Homo sapiens: one gene and its partners. The protein of the gene in region 2 interacts with the protein of the main gene of each other region in a biochemical or structural test. Each region holds a gene or a part of one and is shown on either strand. Other genes may lie near its edges.

The links.
Region 1: the proteins of CACYBP (region 2) and OTUD5 form a complex in vitro, tested with the Homo sapiens proteins (one study listed by BioGRID).
Region 3: the proteins of CACYBP (region 2) and HSP90B1 form a complex in vitro, tested with the Homo sapiens proteins (one study listed by BioGRID).
Region 4: the proteins of CACYBP (region 2) and RNF41 form a complex in vitro, tested with the Homo sapiens proteins (one study listed by BioGRID).

The regions. Positions count from the first base shown.
Region 1 is NC_000023.11:48,954,568-48,961,856, reverse strand, and holds the start of OTUD5 (OTU domain-containing protein 5), read left to right. Parts: upstream 1-4,249; 5' UTR 4,250-4,286; coding exon 4,287-4,880; intron 4,881-7,157; exon of another isoform or gene 7,158-7,209; intron 7,210-7,289. UniProt on the Homo sapiens protein: Deubiquitinating enzyme that functions as a negative regulator of the innate immune system. Has peptidase activity towards 'Lys-48'- and 'Lys-63'-linked polyubiquitin chains. Can also cleave 'Lys-11'-linked ubiquitin chains (in vitro).
Region 2 is NC_000001.11:175,002,923-175,009,971, reverse strand, and holds part of CACYBP (calcyclin-binding protein), read right to left. Parts: intron 5,359-7,049; coding exon 5,139-5,358; intron 3,228-5,138; coding exon 3,131-3,227; intron 2,875-3,130; coding exon 2,775-2,874; intron 1,364-2,774; coding exon 1,266-1,363; intron 50-1,265; coding exon 1-49. UniProt on the Homo sapiens protein: May be involved in calcium-dependent ubiquitination and subsequent proteasomal degradation of target proteins. Probably serves as a molecular bridge in ubiquitin E3 complexes. Participates in the ubiquitin-mediated degradation of beta-catenin (CTNNB1).
Region 3 is NC_000012.12:103,940,410-103,947,409, forward strand, and holds part of HSP90B1 (endoplasmin precursor), read left to right. Parts: intron 1-1,000; coding exon 1,001-1,138; intron 1,139-1,219; coding exon 1,220-1,297; intron 1,298-1,422; coding exon 1,423-1,488; intron 1,489-2,117; coding exon 2,118-2,387; intron 2,388-2,664; coding exon 2,665-2,910; intron 2,911-3,328; coding exon 3,329-3,465; intron 3,466-6,208; coding exon 6,209-6,287; intron 6,288-6,376; coding exon 6,377-6,532; intron 6,533-6,901; coding exon 6,902-7,000.
Region 4 is NC_000012.12:56,201,671-56,204,963, reverse strand, and holds the end of RNF41 (E3 ubiquitin-protein ligase NRDP1), read left to right. Parts: 3' UTR 1-2,785; downstream 2,786-3,293. UniProt on the Homo sapiens protein: Acts as E3 ubiquitin-protein ligase and regulates the degradation of target proteins. Polyubiquitinates MYD88. Negatively regulates MYD88-dependent production of pro-inflammatory cytokines.

The DNA of each region.
Region 1 (7,289 bases), on a different chromosome or scaffold from region 2:
GCAAAGCCTCTGACCAGTTTGCTGCAGCATTTACATCTGCCCTAATCAGAGGGGCCACCTCTAACTCCTCCTCCTCCTCTCTTCTCCTCTGGTTTGCGTCCTTCCTGGGTTGGGCTGGAGTCTGGACTGGCTGAGATAAGAGCCTGGCAACCAGCAAGAGCTGGGCTGTATTTGGAGATCATGGGCTGATTCCATGTTCTTGGGCAACAGTCCAGAAGCATCAGGGGCTCCGGCCTGGGATGTTTCTGAACTTTGGGAGTTATAGGAGACAGGAGGAACTTCTCCTCCTCCTCCTCCCCTACAATTCCTTTTCACATATTCCTTTCTTCTCCCTCTTGGGTGACCTTCCAAAACTCTGCTCTCAGGCTGAAATCTGGCATCATCTCAGGTTCCCTGTCCCCAGCACTGTCCCCATGGAGCTGGTGGCTGACAAAGATGTAGTTTCCATCAGTCAATAAAACCTGAGAGGAGAGATGAGGACTGAGAGTATCTCCTGGCTCTGTGGGTTTGGGGGCTGGGTTGGGCTTGGGGGTTGAAAACACTCTGATTTCAATCCCTTTTGGCTAGGAGAAGGGCTGGTATGGGTCAAGGTATGGGAGATGGATGGTTGGTGATGTATTCTGGAAGATGGGGATCCAGGAGAAATGAAAGAGTGTGGTTTGAGGAGTTCATCTACAGCCAGTGAGACAGGCCAGGGGGTCCTGAGACATTCCTCCTTGGATATCATCTGCGCCAGCTTCCTGATTCACAGATCGGGAAACTGAGACCCAGAGAAACACATAGTTAGTTAGAGGAGGCTTAAACCCAGGCTTCCTGACAGCAAACAACCCTGAATTTAACCCTAATAAAAGCATCACTTTGTTTGGTGAATTTCCCTTCCTTGTGGACGCCCCCTACATTCTCTCTTCTGGGCTACTGGCTACACTAGGCTAGTGTGTGGCTGAGTTCTATAGAGCACTGAGCAGACAGACCATGGATTCAGGTTGATCTGGGTTCCAATCCCTGGGTGAGAGAATCACTTACCTTCTCTTGCCTCAGGTTGCTAGTCTGTGAAATAGGGATAATTCATTTAGTCACCAAATATTTATTAACTTCCATCATGTGCCAGCCCTAGGGATACAAAGGTGGGCAAAGTAGACATTGTCTCTGATGTATAGTTGAGCATGGAAGGCAGACAAGTAATTACAACATGGTGTGGCAGAACTAAGATCCATGTGTTATAGAGGCATGCAGATGGCAGGAGAACTTAACCTGGCCAACACACAGGGAATGAGTTGGAGTTAGCCAGGCAGCAAATGAAAGGATGCAATGTTCTGGGCAGAGGGAACAGCATGTGCAATGACCTGGAGGTTGGAGAGTGAGCTCAGGCCTTTGGGGAACTGAAAGTAGTTCAGTCCAGCTGGGGAGGAGAGTGTGAGGCTGTGAGGAGAGGAAGGATGGAGAGGTAGGCTAGATAATAAAAAGCTTTGAAGCTATGACGCGAATTTTAAACTTCATCCTAAAGATAGTGGGGACCTCTAAAGACTTAAACAGAAAACTCATGATGAAGTTTGTGTTTCAGAATGATCATTCTGGCTGTGGAGAGTGGATATAGAGAAACAGTCCTGGAAGGAAGAAAAGTAGGGTGGAGGCTTTTATAATAGTCCAGGTGGTAGGGGACAGTGGCTTGGACCAGAGTAGTGGCAGTAGAATTGGAGAGTCTAGAGATTTGGGAGGCAGAATTGGCAGGACTTGGGATTGACAGGCATGTGGGAGTTGAGGAAGAGGGAGCAGTCAAAGTTGACTCCCAGTTTCTGGCTTGGACGACGGCTGGATGGGAGTGCTATTCCCTGGTAAAGGGAACATCAGAGCTGTCAGCACTCAGTGCTAGGTACATAGTAAGTACTTGGTGAAGGGTAGCCATGATTGCTATCATGAGTTCAGTTTTAGATGTGTAGTGAGTGAAATATATGGGGCTGGAGTGAGATGATCATGAGAAGATTCAATGTGATAATGTGCATAGGCATTTGGCACAGAGCCCTGAACACAACAGGCCCGGTAAACGTGAAAGTCCCCTCCTATTAAGTCTCATGAGCAGAAAACACTACTTAGAGCCCATTTATTACTTACACCTTTCAGGGAAGAATTTCAACTAGGGTTAGTATCTCAAGGGAGGCAAGGCTATACTCAAAACAGCTTTCCCATGGTCTCTTTCAGTCAACCTGTTGTATGGTTTGTCTCCTAAGACTGGAAGTGAACTCCAAATACCTTCTTGGTTCATCAGCTCATCTGAACCCCATAACCATTCCCTGAGGTAGTCTGGGCAGGTATTATCATTCCTGTTTTACACATGGGTAATCTCAAAAGTGACACAATGACTTGCTCAAGGTCATACAGTTGGTAATGGTCCATCTGTGCCTGGAACTGAGGTCTTTCTGGCTCCAAAGCCTGGGATCCTTCCACTGCACCACCATGCAGACTACTTTATTGAACACTTCCTATGTGCTGGGCACAGCACCAGGCCCTTCACAAGCATTAATCTCTGATCCTCGGATTAGAATTATTGCCAATTTATAGAATAGAAATTAAGGATGGGTGCTCACTTCGCACCACATATACTAAAATTAGAACGATACAGAGATTAGCATGGCACTATGCGAAAGGATGACACGCAAATACGTGAAGCGTTCTATAAAAAAGTAAACAACAACAACAAAAATTGAGGACGGGGTGGGTTTTAAATGACTGACAAAGATCACTCAGACAGGAAGGGCAGAGCTAGGATTAGCGTGTAGCTCTCCAGCTACTCAATAGCAGGGATTCTGCCAACCCCATTTTGAGACGCTGACTGGTGACAGAGCTTTCATAAACCTCGATCGACCCAAGCAAACTCAGTTTTAGAAAAAGGCTGGGCTTGGCCAGGCGCGGTGACTAACGCCTGTAATCCCAGCACTCTGGGAAGCCGAGGCGGGAGGATCGCTTGAGCCCGGGAGCTGGAGATCAGCCTGGGCAACATAGTGAGACTTTGTCCCTACAAAAAAGTGAAAAAAAAATTAGCCGGTCGTAGTGGTGCGCGCCTGTGGTCCCAGCTATTCGGGAGGCTGAGGCGGGAGGATCGCTTGAACCTGGGAGTTGGAGTTTGCAGTGAGCTATGATCGCGCCACTGCATTCCAACCTGGGCGACAGAGTGAGACCCCTGTCTCAATTAGGAAAAAAAAAAAAAAAAAAAAAAAAAAAGGCTGGGCCGCGCCTGCGCACTAGCCATAGGGGCGGGGAGGTCAACGCGAGGCCGAGAGTGCTGTGGTGCCAGAGAAGGCGTGTCTGTTTCCCAAACAACCACTGTCCCCACGGCGCCTGTCTGTCCCAAGGTTGGTCGGTATGCCGCGAGTGACGGCGTCTCTTAACCAATCACCGCAGAACTCAGGCTGTTGCCGGGGCGAAGCGGTGTCCGCCTCCCCCGGAAGGGTATTTGTAGGTGGGTGGGACCGGAAGTGACGCTACAGGGGCCAGCTATGCTCCCGGGAGTGTTGATGTTTTCCAGTCATTCCGGCTGACAGCGTTCAAGTTGGAATCCTGGAGGGGAGGTGTTTTTCCTGTCGTACGTGGGACAGGCCACGCTGTCCGTCCGCAGTACCGACGCCTGCAGGTCAGAGCTTCGGGGAGAAAAGTGAAGAGCAAGACGGAACTGACGGGGAGAAAGGCTGGGAACCAGGGTGTCGACTTTGACTGAAATTTGAGACGGAGGGCACCGGAGGGCGAGCACTCGCCTGTGATTGGCCCGTGGGCGTCGTCGAGGTCCCACGCAGCTGCTCAATTGGTTGGTGTTGCAATTGTTGTGGCGGCGGCGGCGGCGATTTTGCCCACGTACTTCCGAGTAAGGGGCGGGGCTGTGCCCTGGCGCGCGTGCGCAGCGCCCCGGGGCCCCACCCGGTAGTGCAAGAACCTGCGAGGGGGCGGAGCGAAGAGGTGCTTGTTTTGGTTCTGTTTCCTTTGAAGCAGAAGGCCGGAACAAGCGTAGCAATAAACTTGCTGGACTTGGAGAGAAGGCTAAGACAAACTCGCCGCACTGCCTTCATCTTGGACTTTACATCCGGGTTCTCCTCTCGGCGTGACCCGCGCGCCGCCACCGCCGCCGCCGCCGCCGCCGCCTCCTCCGCCGCCGAGGGTTCTCGAACCGGTGCCGCGATCCCTTTATCCGGGTCTCGCCGTTCCCGTCGTGCCTCGCGCACTACACTAGCCCCCTCATCCGGGTTCTCTCCCGGCGTGCCCCGCGCCGGGTTTGTTGGGGGGTACTCGGCAGTGCAGCCATGACTATACTCCCCAAAAAGAAGCCGCCGCCTCCCGACGCCGACCCCGCCAACGAGCCGCCGCCGCCCGGGCCGATGCCCCCGGCGCCGCGGCGCGGCGGAGGTGTGGGCGTGGGCGGCGGCGGCACGGGCGTGGGCGGCGGCGATCGCGACCGTGACTCCGGCGTCGTGGGGGCCCGTCCGCGAGCTTCGCCACCGCCTCAAGGCCCGCTACCAGGACCGCCGGGCGCTCTTCATCGCTGGGCGCTGGCCGTGCCGCCTGGTGCAGTGGCGGGTCCCCGGCCACAACAGGCTTCTCCACCTCCTTGCGGGGGCCCAGGTGGTCCCGGCGGCGGTCCCGGCGACGCGCTGGGCGCAGCGGCGGCGGGTGTGGGTGCCGCGGGCGTGGTGGTGGGTGTGGGTGGTGCCGTAGGCGTGGGCGGCTGCTGCTCCGGGCCTGGGCACAGCAAGCGGCGACGTCAAGCTCCCGGGGTTGGCGCGGTTGGCGGGGGCAGTCCCGAGCGTGAGGAGGTCGGCGCAGGCTACAACAGTGAGGACGAGTATGAGGCGGCTGCAGCACGCATCGAGGCTATGGACCCTGCCACTGTCGAGCAGGTAAGAGCTGTGGGGTGAGGGGTGAGCGGCCACGGCAGATGGGACCCCCAGACTGTGAAGGGACTCAAGGAAGGCTGTTTGAGATCGCCCCAAGGGATCTAGGCGTTTTCACTGGGCCTGACAGTCTTCTCTGGCGGTAGGGATGTGAGACACCTTCTTTCCTCCCCTCCAGGATTTTGGGGCTAGAGGCCTACGGTAAGGTGTCAGACTTAAAGATCCGAGGTCTCTTTTAAGGTCTATAGTCGTCATTCCAGTCCCTGGGACCTCATCATATAGGGCCAATAGGTGGGAATTCTCCAAGAGATACAGGTAGGATCGCGCCCCTCTTGAGTAGGAGTCTCAGGTCTCCCAAGAGACTTAGGTATGTGTTCAGTGGCTTAAGAGCTCTTTTCCTCTGGGATAGAAGTTTGAGATTCCCCTTCCAGGAAAGTCAAATAAGGTGGAGACCTCGGAGATCGGGGCTGAACATCCCCAAGGAGCCTAAGCCCTTTCAAGAGTCTGAGACACTCTGCATATAGGACAATCCTCTCCCGCTTCGCTGGGTAACACTGCACAGGACCACTGAATAGCCAGACCTGAGACCTCAAGGGTCCTAAGTCTGTCTTCAGGGGCCTGAGAGTCCTGCTTCTAGAATCAAGGTCCTGACACACACACACACACACACGCCCCCTTTAAGGATAGGGATCTTCTAAGCTTTTTCCAGGGATGTAAGACTTTTCACAGGGAGATATGATTCCCTTGCCCTTGGGGACAGGGACCAAAACCAACACCCAATGACCAGCAGCTTTACTTATCTCCTTTCTGAGTGACAAAGGTCTGCATTTCCTATCAGTGGCCTGAGACCTACCTCTTGGGAGACAAGGGCCTGAACCGCTTCAGGATCTTAAGCTTCTTGTAAGAAGAGATGGGCCCTCAGCACCCCCACCAGGGGCCTGAACCTTTCTTCAGGAAAATGAGACTCACAGCGTTGGATCCTAGGGCCTAAGATCCACCTGCTTATGGACTGAGGTTTTTAGAGACCGAGTCTGAGGCCTCTTCAGGGGCCTGGTGTCCTGCTGCAAAGGTCTCAGACAAGGTGAAGTCTTTAGGAGATCCTTCTTCTCAAGGCTGGTGTCTGAGTGGTTTTGGGGATCTGAGACTCCCCACCCCACGAGCATATGTGACCCTTTTACCCCAATTATAAGGAACTGAAACATACCTTGGGGATACAGTATCCCATTTTCCCCTCTGTAACAGGGGTTTGAGGCCCTCCCACCTTGGGCCTAAGCTTTTTGTCAGGGACATACGACCCATGCCTTGGGAACTTGAGCCTGAGACGACTACTCAGGGGACATGGGCAACATGGGATCCCAGAGATGATGTCTGGGGCCTCCCTACAGATCTTTGCCTACTTTTAAGGGCCTGAGACCCACTCTGCCAAGGACACTTGAGCTTTCCTTCAGGGACAGGAGACTCATACATACCTTGGTGACTTGTGTGTCTAGAGGTAAGGTCTGAGCTTCCTCCTCAAGGAACTTAAGATGTACACCTGAGAAACAGGAGGACTCCTCCCCCCAGACCTGAGCCCTGAGACTCTTCCCTTGGGGCATGGATAAAGGATCCCTGTGGAACAGGGTCCTGAGTCTACCTCCAAGGGTTTGAATCATAACTCAGGTGTGTGAAGGCCTGTTCCCCACCTTAGGACCTGATTTCTGAACCTGCCCTGAGGGTACTGTCACCTCACCTCAGACAACTTACATACACCCTAGTCTTAGGGGTCATTTAGGGACATAAGACTTCCTGCCTCGGGGACTTGGGCCTTAGACTCCCAACTCCTTTTGGGGACATGAATAGGGTAGGATTCTGAGGAAAAGAGTCTGGGCCCAAGCTTTCTCTCTGGGACAAGATACCGTTTGCCTTAGGGACTGGGGGCCTGGCTCCCACTTGGGCATGAGGCTCTCCTCCTACCACACCAGGCAATCCTTTCTGTCCAGGGAGAGGAACGTGAGGTCATCCTCTCCCATTGGACAGAAGGACCTGGATGCTCTTCAGGGTCATATGAACCCCTTATCCAGAGCTCCCTCGTGGCCAGGGCCAAGAAGGTCCTCCTACTTTCTATGAGAAGATTGTCAGGTCCTGGGGACATGGAGTCTGGAGCCTCCCTTCTGAAACCAAGAGCGATTCCGAGTCTCTCCCTGACCTAGCTATGCTTGCTTCTCACCTCTAGGTCATATAATAAGTTTTGAACTGCTTTTGACAAGCTTTTTTCTTCCCAGGGACAGGAAAGGGGTTTGGGACATCGCCACTCTGGGGAAATTCTCCTCCCACATTCCTTTTCCCCTTGGCTCAGGTAAATCTTTCTGTACTTCACAGGGGCCCCAAGCCTTGTCTTGAGCTCCTTGTTCTTGGTCCCTTCCTCCCATCATTAAT
Region 2 (7,049 bases):
ATTCATCAATCCCTCACTAGGATCTGTTTCAGTGTCATAGGAGGGCTTCCTTTAAAAAGAAAACATATACAACAATGGGGAAACGAAAGCACCGGAAGATACTATCATTCAGGTTGTTAACACTGGCAGGAAGTAGAGGGATAAGAAGGAAGACAGAGTACCCAAAGATATTTACAATCAAAACGGCACGCACAAATTCATCTTAATGAAAACAACACACACGTATCAAGCATGCACACACTTGGTGCACGAAAGAGGTCATCAAAATAGTTAGGGGCTATTTTTAGGCACAGGGATTTCCCATGATTTTTTTTTTTTTTTTTTTTTTGAGACAGTCCTGCTCTGTTGCCCAGGCTGGAGTGCAGTGGCGCATCTCGGTTCACTGCAACCTCCGCCTCCCAGGTTCAAACAATTCTGTCTGCCTCAGCCTCCCGAGTAGCTGGGATTACAGGCACATGCCACCATGCCCGGCTAATTTTTGTATTTTTAGTAGAGACAGAGTTTCACCATGTTGGCCAGGCTGGTCTCAAACTCCTGACCTCAGGTGATCCGCCCGCCTCAGCCTCCCAAAGTGCTAGGATTACAGGCGTGAGCCACCCCACCTGGCCTCCTGTGATTTTTGACAGGTAAAATAAGAATTTGATTTTCTAACTTGTTTTCATTTTTTAAAAGCATGTTTCCTCATAATTTGAAAAAAAACACTTGAGGGAAAATCATAAACATTACACATGGATGTACCCTGAAGCTCATGTATTTTTTAATTAGAAAAACTCTCCTCTTAAGCCTGAGATACACAGATCTGGGCCTGGGTCTTGAATTAATTTAGTCAGTACCTTTAGAAGATGAACTGACCTAGAACGCAAGTATCATTGAATACACATTTTTAAAAGGTCATTATTAAGAAGGATAAAAATATTTTATCTTTTTCACTATAAACCAGTGACAATGAAAACTACGCATCAGAAGCATCTGAGAAATTTAAAACATACAGGGGTACCTAAGCCCCTCTCAAACTACCGAAACAGAGTATCTGGGAATGGGCACAGTTATTTGTATAGAAGCACAACTGCGCCTAGGGTTAAGAACCACACTAAAGAGCCAACCCTTAACTACAAAGACCTTAAAAAGCAACTTGCTGGACGTGCCCTCTTCAGGTAGTTTGACAGTTGAAAGCAGAAATACATTATCCATAAAGACAAACTATTAAAAATCCATGATCTCAAACAATACACTAAAATTCTTTAAAAAAATGGAAGTAGACTCACTCTTTTTCTTTGCACTCCTTTTCAACCTGGGTCAGGTAATCCCACCTTGTGTTTTCCACTTTCTTTCTACACAATATAAGAACTGTATCAGTCTTGACCTGGAAGAAAAGCAGGAAAACAAATACAGCTTAGAAGACATGGAGATAAGCATGAATATTTATAAAACAATTATCTATTCAATTGATCAAGTCCCTAGTATGTATAGACTTATTTTGGGTGCCAGTAATACTTGTATGAATAGGCCAAAATCTGAACATTCATGGTGTGAAAAGACCATAAATAAGTAAAACTTGAATACCCTGATATCCTGGAAAGTGCTATCAAGACAAAGCGGGTGTTAATGGGGGGTGGGGGCAGGAACTTCATTAGGAAGGCCTCTCTGAGGCAAATCTGAGCCGAAGCCTAAGGTCAGGAGAAGGCAGTTGGCAGAGCATGCAGAATGGCTCCAAGATGGGATCATCTTGGTGTGTTTGAGGAGCAGGAGGAGTGGCTGGATTTTAGTGACTGAAAAAGACAGTAATATAATAAGAGGGGTCGGGGATAGGCAAGAAACCAAGTCGTATAAGGCAGTATGGGGCAAGGTGAGGCATTTGAAAGTGAGAAAGAAGGGCAATGTACAGGTCTTTTAAACAATGATCAATACTAGGGATCTTTTGGTACTCTACCTATGGGACTAGCGGATGCAGAAGGGTGCAGTAAGACAGCGAATCCAACTATATTTGAGTATCACCTGTAAGCTGTTAAGTAATTATGTATTATAAAAACAGATGGCAGAATGTCATGTCTATATACCTAACGCATTAAACTTCATTTATTCACATTAGGCAGAAAACAGGGACTATCTGATTTAGTAAAAATTACAAAGAGTAGTTTTTAAAAGACAGTTTCCTTATTTTTATAGCTGCTTCTAACTCCAAGGAGGCTAAGTGCTTAAGACCTCCTTTTATGTATACGAGTATTATGCACAATGCTAACACTAGCATTAATTTAAGCACTTTACATAATGGTATTGCACTTCAGTGTATCATTTCAACTTTGTGAAATAAATTATTACTATCGCATAAATGCAGAAACTGAGGCACAGAGTGATTAAGCTGCCAAAGGTCACAAACAATAAGCTGTAAACCTGGCATAAAACTCAAGTCTCACTCTTAACTACCTTCAAACGTTTACTTCCTCCCTGATTTTAATGGAATATTCTTACAATAGCCTATTCTACAAAAGGAGTTGGCAAATGTTCTCTGTCGAGGGCCGCATAGTAAATATTTTAGGTTTCATTTAGGGCCATATGGTCTGCTGTAGCCACTTAACTCTGCCATTGTAGCACAAAAGCATCCACAAACAACACATGAACAAATAAGCCTGGCTATGTCCCAATAAAACATTCACAAAACAGGCGGTGGTCCCTGTTACAGAGGACAAATTCATTCCAGTTCATCTCAGTTCTAAATCAGCCAGGTTCAATTTGGTAAGGTTTCACAATATTACAATCAAAAAAAGCACACTCACTTTTTTTGAACTGCCTTCCACAGAGATGGGTTTCAAGAGATTGTTCACAATCATGGAGTAACTCTTCCCATTTAGATTCTTTACCAAAAGATCAAATGACCTGCAACACAATGGTGAATACATCATCTTTCTAGTTCTATGAAAGGTACCCTTACTCCATAGTTCTTGTGGGAAAAAAGCTGCTGGCTTTATTTCAGGGTGTGCATTTGGCCAGTTAACGCTCACCTCTTCAAAGTAGTTGTAAAGGATAATTAATTCTAAATTTAAGAATTTTAAAAACTGCAAAGAAGAGAGTCTCAAGATAAGGCAATGTTGACTGTTAATTCACTGTCTTTCCCATTATAATGAGAACTCACCTCTCTGTGAAATGCACCTGCACATTCTCAGTGGGAACTTGATGAACTCCAGTTAAGGTAATGTAGATTTTCACAAACTTATCTGACTGATCCCATCCTGGCAACGACAACAAAAGATGGGACGTAAGTAAGCCTCTGAAACTATCTTTAGAACAGCAAATGCACATGGCTCATAAGTCAGGAAAGTAAAATTATGAAAATCCAGTCATATAAACATGAAAAAATTTGAAATATAAGAAATTTTCTAGGTTGAGAAATGGAGCCTCAAAGCAGTTAAGTACTCTACCCAAAGCTAGGCATCTAACAAGTGGTAGAATTCAGATTCAAATCCAGGTTTCTGAATACAAAACCTATGCTCTTTTTATCCCTCAGAATAAAAATATGATCACTAAATACATTCTTTAAGATTAGTTCATTTACAGCTTTTATGGAAACAATTTTGTCCGACATCTAAATATTGGTAGTTCTCCACTAAGCTGGATGGCTAAGTATCAATACTAATTCCATAACCATTTCTACTTCTGTAAGTAGTCAAACAAATGGAATCCTAGCTCTCTTAATTCCTTTCCAGGGCAAAGTAGAATGTAAAAGACTCCAATTCTTCATCCAAATCTGACAAACCTACTGGTATCTGTTAAATGCCATTTCAGTATGTATTATCAAACTACCAGCACGTCTCTGACCTAGAAGAACTCTGTCAACATAAAAGACATATATATAAATACTTCACAAAATACCATCACATTTGTAGAAAATAAAAAACTTCACAAAAAAGCATCTTCTGTTTATCAAGAATATATACATACATATCCCTGACTATTGCTCACTTAGTCCTATAGAATAGAAACATGCCCCATCCTCCATGACGTTTTTCACATTGCATGCCTATATCAAACATCTCATGTACCCCATAAATATATACACCTACTATGTACCCTCGAAAATTAAAAAGAAACAGTGTTGATGAAAAAATGCCCTAGTGGGGTCCAGAGAACTTCATTTATTAATAGTTTCTTCCCATTCAGTCAGTCCATCCTCCGGATTGACAAGTTTCTCCCTCAACACAAATCTATGTTCCTGGTTAAAATACCATAATCCTCAACACCTTCAGACCAGTTTCCTATACTCAACTGAGTACACGGTGCAATTTCCTATATTACTATATAGTACATCTCTTAAGCACGACATACACATGCTTTTCACTATTAACAATATTCAAAATAGATCATGCCTTCCAACTCTCTATTCACATTCTCTGCTCATGCTGTTCCCCTCCTTTTTGACTTGCTGAATGTACGACTCACCCTTCACACTCAAATCTCTCTAATTCTCCCTGTTCCTCACCTCCAGAATTATTTCTTCAGCTATGTTACCTATTATGTGCTAGACATTATTAGCACAAAGAAAAACAAGACTGTCCTTGCTCCAATGAGAGCTCATCATTCATATTCAAGTTGCGCTGCCGCCAAAACAAAAAACTGTATACACCATTGAAGGAAAACAGTATTACTACATTGTTATACTACGAGTTATACGTCAATGTCCCAACCACAACATGAGCAAGGACTGGGTCTTAGTCACTGTTGTGTATCCGTAAGTCAAAGCACAATAGTGATACACATTAGGTGCTCAAAAATATTTCCTGAATTTAACTGGATTCCTCTCCTCAGTTAATTGTGGTGGTTGGCAGAGTGAAACATAAAACATGATTAAAAACCACCACCACCACCACCACCACCAAAGCTGTGTCTTATACTGAACAATTTCAGAATAAGTTCCTTCCTTGTTGTTACATTTTGTAGTGAATCACCTTACTCTTGTTAACAGCTTCTAGAACGCATCCTTTCCTATTTATATCTTAAAAAAGTTTTATTAAATAAAAACTGATGGGTCTTGCTCCAAACCACCAAAAACACAGACTCAAAACTCATTGGGGATGAATTTGTTAGACCACTATGAGGAATAGGTTGCTCGGAGGCAGAACTGGCTATAGGGAAGCAAGTCATACCATAATTACTGATTTTCACCGTATAGCCCGTTGTAATGGGAGCAACCACAGCAGCTGGTTTTTCATTATCAAGAAGTTCTGCTTTCTTCTGTGATTTCTGTTGCATCTTGTTCTTGATTTCTGTCTCAATCTTGGATTTTTCAGCTGTAAGGGCATCACGTACTCTTTTCCTAGTAGCCTTTTCCAGCAACACCTTTACCTCTTCTAGATCTTTCTGTAGCTGTGTTAAGACAAAAAATAAGTTAGCTATGATAAATAAGGAAATGGCTTGATATTGTGCGTATCACTCATTTCAACTTACTGAAATAAGCACTAAGAATTAAGAAGTTCATCTAAATTTTCTAGGATTGAGTTGCAACTTCAATTCTTCCATCTGGCTTATTAACTGTAATTAACTCAAGCTTCCTTTTTTTCAAAAGGAAAACTTTGAACAATCTTGAACAAACAATAAATAGGTCTTCAAACCTAAATTTTCCAGTTTATGTTTTAAAATATTTACAAGAAACGTCTGCGACCTAAAAAGTAAAACAAAGAACTTTTTTTTGACAAAGGATTCATAGATTTCCTTGTAACATCTAATCCGAGTGTCATTAGATGTTAGACACTTTTAAAATATTTAAGAGATGAGAGAACATGCAGTGACCATGGTAAAATGCTTTTATAGCAAACTTAACTGAGGTAATGAATGCTCCACTTTCTGTCACTGATTGGTCTTCATTATCTTCCCACCTCAAATACCTCACATAAAAAAAGTCTTAATTTTTAAGACAAAAGATAAAAAAAAAAATTTCTGCTTTTGAGGAAAAGTCTTGCTCTGAAGCTGGGTCAGTCTTACACTCAGAAGTGTAGGAGTTGGTTGCACAGAAGGTGACAAAAGACCGAAAATGCAACATACTCTTGGAAATTATCTTTTGAAAAAGCCACCACGTTCTCATTTTCTTCTCTTGCCAATCCATCATCTATTAAAGTCTACTACTTTCTACTTTCTAGAGATAGAGGCAACATTTTATGAAATTCAAGAGTTAAAGACAATGTTAGAAAATTATTGAGCCTAAGTTTTTTTTCCCCCAATTACCCTCTGACATACTGCAAATACACAAGATCTTTCCAAACAGCTGTTTCACTTTTCTTACAATAACTTTACACTCTGGCTTGACACTACCAACTTGACCAAAAAAATCTTGTGTCACAGCTTGATATCAAAAGCTCAATTTAAAAAAGTCTTTTAGTGCTTTATAACTCAGAATATCAGACGCACAACAGAGTTTGAAAGCCTGTTTCTTAATAGTCTTATAAAATGCAATAACAGAACTAATTCTTTTCTTTTACTACAAGTCTTTTGTTATCTCATTTAACTCAGATGCCCTAGTTTTGCCTATCTATAACAGATGACATGGTATAAAAAGTTCAACTCTGGCCAGGTGCAGTGGCTCACACCTGTAATCCCAGTACTTTGGGAGGCCAAAGCGGGTGGATCACTTGAGGTTAGGGGTTCGAGACCAACATGACCAACACGGCGAAAGCCCGTCTCTACTTAAAATTCAAAAATTTGCCGGGTGTGGTGGCACGTGCCTGTAATCCCAGCTACTCGGGAAGCTGAGGCAGAAGAATCGCTTGAACCCGGGAGGCAAAGGTTGCAGTGACCCGAGATCGCGCCATTGCACTCCAGCCCGGGCAACAAGAGCAAAACTCGGTCTCCCAAAAAAAAAAAAAAATCAACTCTGCCCAACCCTCTTGTCCACACTCTCGACCCTTCCAAGAACAGCTCATATTACTATGACAAAAAATCTTGCAAACTCATCTTTTGAGCATAGAACCAAAATGTTTCAGTTCAAAGTAATATTTTTATTGTAATGGTTTCAAAAAAACGCTGATTCTACAACTCCTAATTCATAATAAAAATATTGAAAT
Region 3 (7,000 bases), on a different chromosome or scaffold from region 2:
TGTTTAAAGTTAATGTTTCCCCAGCAGCATTTAGTACAAGCAGTAGAATGCTCTAGTGGACTTAACCATAGCTAAATAAAACTTAATATTCTGTGTCTGTATTTGTTCTTTTCTCTATTCCATATCCTTTAAATTTCAACTCTTAAAACACTGTTGGTTCTGCCTTCACTTTTATTTCCATAAACTCTAAAGTCCTAGTGTCTATAAACTTACTTCATATAAAGCAGCTGTATTAGAAATATAATTAATGTGAGCCACACATGATTTGAAATTTTTTAGAAGCCATACAAAAAAAGGAACCATGAAATGTTAATAGTATAATTTATTTAACCCAGCATACCCCAAATAGTATTATTTCAACATAATCAATATAAAAACTAATAATGAGACATTTTATATCCTTTTTAAAATTTGTACTGTGCCTTCAAAATGTATTTTACACTTTAATAGCACATCTGAATTTGAACTAGCTACATTTCAGTGCTTAACAGCCATATACAGTAATAGATAATGCAGATCAAGAGAATTTCCAACTTTGTTTTACAGGTATTTACATACATCTTTGTAGCCACTCTTAGAGCTAAGTTCCATGGAAGAAACATGTTCTTGAGTACTTACTGTAGTTCAAGGGCACACTGAAGTGTTGTATGTAATTTTGTCATTTAGGCAGGGTGGTGGTTTTCCTATTCACTTCTCTCATACGTAAGAAGTATAAACTCATCCTTCCTTCTGAGAGTTTAGGAAATAATGTTATTGACAATCATCATCAAAACAACCATGTCTAGTGAATTAGAATTGCAATTCTAGATATTTCTTCACTCCACCCTTTTCTTTCTCTTCCCCCCACCCTTTTCTTTCTCTTCCCCACCTCCCGCCAGTAAAGGAAAATTTTTTGTTAGTTAATTGCTAAACTGAATATGTACCACATAGTACATTGCTTAGTTCTTGCACTGCTTTTCTCCTGTGTCGTTTGAATGACTAAGATACCAACTTTCCACAGGAAAGTGATGACCCCATGGCTTATATTCACTTTACTGCTGAAGGGGAAGTTACCTTCAAATCAATTTTATTTGTACCCACATCTGCTCCACGTGGTCTGTTTGACGAATATGGATCTAAAAAGAGCGATTACATTAAGGTGAGTTTTTAAGTAGTACATGCTGCGTTTAAAATTTGAAAGTTTAATTTCCAGAAAGTGACTTTTTTTTGGTCTCTTTAGCTCTATGTGCGCCGTGTATTCATCACAGACGACTTCCATGATATGATGCCTAAATACCTCAATTTTGTCAAGGGTGTGGTAAGTATCTGAAGTTTGGGAGAAGGGGTGATTGTTGTGGGGGTCTGGCAGTGTAGAGTGTTTGTTTGGCTTTGCTTTCTTCCAGTGGTTTTATTGCTCACTGAACTTTCTTTTGCCATCTGAAGGTGGACTCAGATGATCTCCCCTTGAATGTTTCCCGCGAGACTCTTCAGCAACATAAACTGCTTAAGGTAAGTGTCTCTGGGAAGAAACTCTCCACTTTGCTGTTTGATTGGGGTTCAGAGGACAGGCTCCATTTGTGGAGTAAAACCAGATTTTGGGTCTGGTCCATGATTCTTCAGATGAATTTCCTTTCTTTCTGGAGTTATCAGATCCTAAGAATCTGATTCTTTTTCTCCCAACATTTAATAATGAAGTTTCAAACATCTAGAAAAAAATTAAAGAATTGTACAGGTCCAGGATTAACATTTTGTCATCTAGACACATAGCCACCTTTTTATCAAGCCTTTCATTAAACCTTTCCCCTCCAATACTTCCATAATTAGAAGACTCTTTAGTTTTTGAATTTAAAAGTATTTGAAAGTAGCATATTTGTTCACTTCATTTAGATGCTAGAGAGAGAGTATCACTGAGTCCTAAGGTTAGAATATAAACATTAAGGCAATCTTGTGGCTATTTGCACGGACAGCTGAATTTCAGCCCAATCTGAATGAATTGGAGTGCTTCACCATTTCCTGCCCCTCAATAAATGGCAATAACGATATCGTCTTTGTGTTTTTCACACTCCTGCCTGGGTACCTTACATTCTCAAAAGTTGGAGATTAACTTCTCTAATCAGTTATTCTTTCATTGTGTTTAGGTGATTAGGAAGAAGCTTGTTCGTAAAACGCTGGACATGATCAAGAAGATTGCTGATGATAAATACAATGATACTTTTTGGAAAGAATTTGGTACCAACATCAAGCTTGGTGTGATTGAAGACCACTCGAATCGAACACGTCTTGCTAAACTTCTTAGGTTCCAGTCTTCTCATCATCCAACTGACATTACTAGCCTAGACCAGTATGTGGAAAGAATGAAGGAAAAACAAGACAAAATCTACTTCATGGCTGGGTCCAGCAGAAAAGAGGTGAGATGAACTCATAAGTGTTGTCAGCCATTCTGGAAGGTAGCTAGGGATTTATAGCCAACTCTTGAGGGGGAGAAAAGGAAAACTTAATTGTGTAACTGGAGTAGTTATAAGGCCTGGTCAGTCACTGACAGGAAGGTCATTTATATTCTCTGAACCTCTTAATTCTTCACCTGTAAAATGGAGTTTTTAATAATGTATAAACATAGCAGCTGCTAGGATAAACAAATACACCAGGGCCAGACTTGGAAAACTTTGTGACTTCTTAATTTTGTAGGCTGAATCTTCTCCATTTGTTGAGCGACTTCTGAAAAAGGGCTATGAAGTTATTTACCTCACAGAACCTGTGGATGAATACTGTATTCAGGCCCTTCCCGAATTTGATGGGAAGAGGTTCCAGAATGTTGCCAAGGAAGGAGTGAAGTTCGATGAAAGTGAGAAAACTAAGGAGAGTCGTGAAGCAGTTGAGAAAGAATTTGAGCCTCTGCTGAATTGGATGAAAGATAAAGCCCTTAAGGACAAGGTACTGTGGAAATTACAAATTGTGGAAATATTAGTATCAGCATTTAAGAGAAAGTTATTTTGTGAACAAATTAAGCTGCAGCTGGTTACTTTGTAACCATTAGAATGGTAAAAATTTAATTAATGTAATTAAATTATTGGGAGAAAGCTTAAAACTTTCGACAATACTGCTTTGTTAATAACTTGTTACAAATTAAATTTTATGTTTTTAAAAGGTGGTATTTAAACTTCTGACTAGAAAATTCAGATTATCAAGTAAGTGCCCCTACAAATTCTCCTAAACCTTAAGAAAAGCTATTTTTATGACCTGCTTCTGTGTTTATGATCTTAAGTGATAAAGTCTTAGACAGTTGAAAGACAATTGCTCAATGACCTTACCTGTTGATATTAATTTATATGACTTGATTTCTTTCCCTAAGATTGAAAAGGCTGTGGTGTCTCAGCGCCTGACAGAATCTCCGTGTGCTTTGGTGGCCAGCCAGTACGGATGGTCTGGCAACATGGAGAGAATCATGAAAGCACAAGCGTACCAAACGGGCAAGGACATCTCTACAAAGTAAGCATCCTCGGGAAAGTCCCTGCCAGGGCGTTGCCCCTTACCCAATCTTTGTTTTGGAGATAATACCAGCTTCAATACAAAGAGTAAAATTGCCTTAAATGTCTACCACTGTCTACTATAAGGTAGACAACAAGTTTACGAAGGGATTTCTCCTACATTTGATTGAGAAAGAAAAGGTCTTTGACTCATGATTTTCTGATTTTATTGTATTTGATATGTAAATGGGAATTTTCTTAATGTGTTATGCATAGTCTTTACTTTTGCATTGGATTATATGCTTAGCCTAATATCTGAATTTATTTTACATTTTTAAATGTAATAGCTGCACGAGGTTAATGACAACATTCCTCAAGTGAGTTAAGTCCATTTCAAATCACGTCCCCCACACCCCCAAGCATTAAATTATGGGTATCCAGATAGAATGTCTCATAAAGTAGACGGTACAGGACCTGTGAATTAACAGTATTTGAACTCAAGGGCCTATACCTGGAGGTATAGTGAGTCTTTGGTACTCTTTATTTTCAAGAAATATAGTATTTCAAGTTTATGTTTTAATGTCACAGCAATGATCTTGAAAATGACTTCTCCCCTACTTTTATTCTCTCTTCTTTCACCTGGAGTATGTTTCTGATATGCTATCTAGTCATCATCCTTTTTTCCCAAGGCCTAGCTTAAGGATTCTTTTTTTTTTTCCCCCGAGACAGAGTCTTGCTCTGTCACCCAGGCTGGAGTACAGTGGCGCAATCTCTGCTCACTGCAACCTCCGCCTCCTGGGTTCAAGTAATTCTCCTGTCTTAGCCTCCTGAGTAGCTGGGATTACAGGCACCTGTCAGCACACCCGCTAATTTTTGTATTTTTAGTAGAGACGGTGTTTCACCATGTTGGCCAGGCTGGTCTCGAACTCCTGACCTCATGATCCGCCCTCTGCGGCCTCCCAAAGTGCTGGGATTACAGGCGTGGGCCACTGCGCCTGGCCAGGATTATTATTCTTAAAGCCTTTTCTCACAAATGTAGTCTCCATTGTTGTCACAATTCTAAAATTCCATATATGTCTTTTAACTATAAATTTCATGCAGAGAATAGTGTTCTGTTTATCTGATATCCCATTGCAATAGTACAAGGGCCATTTAAAACATGTCCACCTATTAATTTCAGGAAATGATTAATAGGAAGTTACCTTGCATCCAACAAACATGAAGACTTACTATGTCCATGCACTGATGGTCACAGGTAGACATAACTCCTGTCTTTTCTAACATTTAGACTAGTGAAAATGACAAATCAAAGCCAGGCATGGTGACTCACTCCTGTTGTCACTCAGGAGGCTGATGCAGGAGTATCAGTTGATTCCAAGAGTTCGAGGCTGTAGTGTGCTGTAATGGCATTGCACTCTAGCTCTAGCCTGGGTAACATAGCCAGACTCCGTCTCTTTTTTATTTAAAAAAGAGGAAAAAAAGCAAGTCATAATCCGAGCCCTACATAGATAATGGGTACACCAGGATAGGGAAGGATGTGGTTCCTCCCTGTCCTCAGAGCTTTAAACTAGAGAAGAGAGAATAATCACAACCAACAGTAAAAAGCTAAGGATTTTGAAGGTATATTCAAAATGCATTTGGAACTGAGCTCAGATAAAGTTAATTTTTCTTGGAATCATTGGCGAAGGCATCGTGGAGAAGGTATTATTATTGGAGCACAATCCAGAGGCTACATAGATTTTTCTGAACTTGGGGAGGCAGAGCTACAATTACGGTAGTAAGAATAAACTAAGAGGGAACAAACAGGACATTAAATCAGTTCGTCTGTTCAGCAGTGCTCCAGGTACTTGGGACTCATCAGTAAATAAAATAGTTCCCTTCATTTCATTTTTCATCTAACCGTGTCCACTTGCTCCCCACCCCACCTCCCCGTTAAAAGGGAGCAATACAGGCTGGGCACATGGCTCACGTGTGTAATCTCAACACTTTGGGAGGCTGAGGTGAGAGGATCACTTGAGGCCAAGAGTTCAAGACTAGCCTGTGCAATATAGTGATACCCTGTCTCTATAAAAACTAAATAAGGAAACAGTGCAGTCATCCCTTTTTGTCCATGGGGTGTTGGTTCCAGAACATCCCATGGATACCAAAATCCACACATAGTCAAGTCCCTTAGGTAAAGTCGTGCCGTATTTGCATATAACCTATGCACATCTTCCCATGTACTTTAAATAATCTATAGATTACTTTTAATACCTAATGCAATTTAAGTGCTATGTAAATAGCTATTATACTGTATTGGGTTTTTTATTTTTTTCTTGTTTTGCCCTTTCTAATATTTTCAATCCGAGGTTGATTGACTCTGCAGATAAAGTAGACTGGAAAAGTACAGTCGTCCTTAGGTGTATGAGGGAGATTGGTTCTAGGACCCCTGCCAAAATCCACAAATATTCTAGTCCCCCAGTCTGCCCTGTGGAACCCGTGTATATGAAGAGTGGGAGCTCTGTGTGTGTGGATTCCACATCCCAAGAATACGGTATTTTCTATCTGAGTTTGGTTGCTGAACCTGCACATACGGAGGGCGGACTGTATTTATTGGAAAAAAAATAGCATATAAGTTCAAACCTGTGGTGTTCAAGTGTCAATAGTACATTTTGATTTTTTTTTTTTACCAAGAGTTGTTCTGTGTAATTATGAAAGAATAAGGGAAACGTATGAACCCTAAAATTGGATATGTTTTGTTAATGTTCATTTTTATCTCTTAACAGTTACTATGCGAGTCAGAAGAAAACATTTGAAATTAATCCCAGACACCCGCTGATCAGAGACATGCTTCGACGAATTAAGGTAGTATTAAAGCAGTCCTCTTGCTTGTCTTTTAATTTGAGTACTTTGTATCTTTTAATATTAATCTAGTGCATCTTCTTGCATTTCAGGAAGATGAAGATGATAAAACAGTTTTGGATCTTGCTGTGGTTTTGTTTGAAACAGCAACGCTTCGGTCAGGGTATCTTTTACCAGACACTAAAGCATATGGAGATAGAATAGAAAGAATGCTTCGCCTCAGTTTGAACATTGACCCTGATGCAAAGGTTTGTATCCCCAACCTTCCCGCAAAGGCTGGCTGGCTTTCTTTGTTTCTGTTCTTTCAGAATAGGCCTCTCATGATTGAGGGATGTAGCTTTGCGACATTTGCCTAATTTCTACCTTTTGAAAGAATTTTATTGAATGTTTGAATCCCTGTAGTGTCAGGCACTGCACTAGAAACTAAGTCCTCCTTTTACGTCCTCTTTCCTTTTTGCCTGCCTCCTTTTGTTAGCTTGGCTGTTCATTCTAGTTAAGAGGATTTAGTCTGTGGTTCTGAATAAACAGAAGTGACATTAATTATGATTTTATACATATAAATGAGCAAAGTGGAAATAAATCCAAGGCATTAATGGGCCCATAAATGTTGTGTTTAGGTGGAAGAAGAGCCCGAAGAAGAACCTGAAGAGACAGCAGAAGACACAACAGAAGACACAGAGCAAGACGAAGATGAAGAAATGGATGTGGGAACAGAT
Region 4 (3,293 bases), on a different chromosome or scaffold from region 2:
AGAGTAAGAGAAGGGGAGAGATAATAGGTGTGATTATTTTAATATGGAGGTGGGAGTGTGGTTGGAGATAGAAAGGCTCCTCCCCACCATGTAATGGCTTCCTCTCAGAATTTTATTCCAGGCTAGCTTGCTGCAGGTCTGGGTAGTTGGATCATGGCTCCACTGGGATTGGGGTGGAAAGCTTGAGGGGAGTAGGGTTCCAGCTCTGGGACATTGTGCTCAGGAATTTGAAAACGCTGCTATACTTACTCTGGTTACTACATTTCTTCCACTCCCCTTTCCCCTACCTGCCTTAACCAAGGCTCATACTGTCCTGTCCTTACCCTCAGATGGAGCCAGGAAGCTCAGTGAAAGGCTTCCCTACCCTTTGCACTAGTGTCTCTGCAGGTTGCTGGTTGTGTTGTATGTGCTGTTCCATGGTGTTGACTGCACTAATAATAAACCTTTTACTCAACTCTCTAAATTCTTCAGCATTACTCCCTTTCTTGAGAAGGTTTCCCCTCTGCTTTTGCCTTTCTCTCACCTTAATTCCCTTTCTTCCTTACTTTGTTACCTACCCTTATCTTAGTGCTAACTTCTCTTTCAGGAGGATGTCTGGGAGTAGTGTGCACTTCACAGCTGCTTTCCCATGTACCCTCCTGCATTCTTCCCTCCTATCTCCTGTTCTGTAGCAGCCAAAGCTCTCTAGTGATCTGAACTGTGTGCTTCCCAGGGTCTGCCTTTATCCTAAATTCCATGTCTTCCCTGAGTGGTCCTGAGTTTTTGGGATAATTTCTACAGAAGATATGTATATATCTTTTTCCTTTGTCCCACAAGCAACTTTGCTTTAGAATCTAGAATTCCTTTGCAGGCAGAGAAGTCTCTACCTCCCAGTGTTTCCTAGCTAAGAACGTAAATGTGAGGAGGGAAATGTACTTGCAGAGGTTTCATAATTATTTACTTATAAAAATAGTCTTCATAGCCGGGCGCGGTGGCTCACGCCTGTAATCCCAGCACTTTGGGAGGCCGAGGTGGGTGGATCACAAGGTCAGGAGTTCGAGACCATCCTGGCTAACACAGTGAAACCCCGTCTCTACTAAAAATACAAAAAATTAGCCGGGCGTGGTGGCAGGCACCTGTAGTCCCAGCTACTTAGGAGGCTGAGGCAGGAGAATGGCGTGAACCCGGGAGGCAGAGCTTGCAGTGAGCAGAGATTGGGCCACTGCATTCCAGCCTGGGCGACAGAGCAAGGCTCCGTCTAAAAAAAAAAAAAAAAAAAAAAGTCTTCATAGGCCGGGCACGGTGGCTCACGTCTGTAATCCCAGCACTTTGGGAGGCCAAGGTGGGTGGATCACAACGTCAGGAGATCGAGACCATCCTGGCTAACATGGTGAAACCCTGTCTCTACTAAAAATATAAATAAATTAGCCGGACAGGCGCCTGTCCTCCCAGCTACTCAGGAGGCTGAGGCAGGAGAATGGTGTGAACCTGGGAGGCGGAGCTTGCAGTGAGCTGAGATCACGCCACTGCACTCCAGCCTGGGCAACAGAGCAAGACTCCGTCTCAAAAAAAAAAAAAAAAAAACCAGTCTTCATAAGTATTTGCTGCTACCTTTCCCTGTCATAAGAAAAAGGATAGCCAGACATGGTGGGACGCCACTATGATCCCAGCTCCTTGGAAGGCTAAGGCACAAGAATCGCTTGAACCTGGGAGGTGGAGGTTGCAGTGAGCTGAGATCATGCCACTGCACTCCAGCCTGGTGACAGAGCAAGAGCCTGTCTCAAAAAAAAAAAAGAAAAGAAAAGAAAAAGGGATATCTTTTCCTCCTCCCAGAAGTTTGTTTTAAATTTGAGCATTTATCATGCACCTGATGTAAACCTAATAGTACTCTTGATACTCTAGTGGCTTGAAAAAAAAAAAAAAGGCATTTCTGTGCTGAGTCTGCGCTTCTATGCACACAAGGTATGTTTATAAAATACTGATAAGCATGTCACAGTATAGAGCATAAGAGGCAATGTATGTATCCTAGTGACATTAGCAGTGCTTTTCCCCCCTTAAACTCCTTTAAAATTACTTTTAGAACTTGCTGCTCATTCTTGTGAATGTTATGAATGGTGTCATATTGTCCTTTTACAGAAGATACGATTTTTAGAAACAAATATTCATTGAATGTCTGCCCTGTGAGATACTCACTAGAGTGAACATGAGGAGGCTTATGTAGCAAAATGGCACCTACCTGCAAAGAACTTAGTCCCTAATGGAGATGAATATATAATAAGGGATCATAAATGTGCTAAGTGGATTTACTAGTAATATGTGAGCCAAGGACGATAAAGCTCCTGATTCTGATGGGTATCAGGAAAGGCTTTTCAGGAAGTGTTACTTGTTATAGGTCAGAGGTCAGCAAACTACAGGTTACAACCCCACTGCCTGCTTTTGTAAAAAACTTTATTGGAATACAGTTATGCCCACTTGTTTATATATTGTCTGTGGCTGCTTTCACATTACAACAGCAGGGTTAAGTAGCTGGAACAAAGCCTAAAATACTTGGTCTTTTACAGAAAAAAATTTGCCAACCTGTTCTAAACTTTTAAGGTCAGGAGAACTGGGGGAAGGAGGGAGTAGAAAGAACACTGTCACCCAGACTGGAGTGCAGTGGCACCATCATATAGCTCACTGTAGCCTCAAACTCCTGGGCTCTAGTGGTCTTCCCACTTCAGCTTCTGGAGTAGCTGGGGCTACTGCACCTGGAATTGTCTTAATCTGTTTTAATACTAGTAAAATTTTTTTTGTTTCATCTCTTTCAGTGACTTTGATACACTGTCTTAATTTTTTTTTTTTTTTTTTTTTTTTTTTTAGATAGGGTCTGGCTCTGTAGCTGAGGCTGGAGTGCATGACGTAATTTTGGCTCACTGCAACCTCCACCTCCCAGGCTCAAGTGATCCTCCTACCTCAGCCTCTTAGGTAGCTGGGACCACAGGCATGCGCCACCACACCGGGCTAATTTTTTGTATTTTTTGTAGAGATGGGGTTTCACCATGTTGCTGAGGCTGGTCTCAAACTCCTGAGCTCAAGGAATCCACCTGCCTTGGCCTCCCAAAGTGCTGGGATTACAAGTGTGAGCCACTGCACCTGGCTTCATTGTCTTAATTTTTTACTTCAGTATATACATTGGAAAAATAAAAATATTTTTGACATTACCTAAATAACAAGTGTTTACAATTAACAATGTATAATGAATAATCTACTACAAACCCATGTTTACATTACCCTAATTGTCCCAAGAAAAGTCTTTTTTTTTTTTTTGACACAGG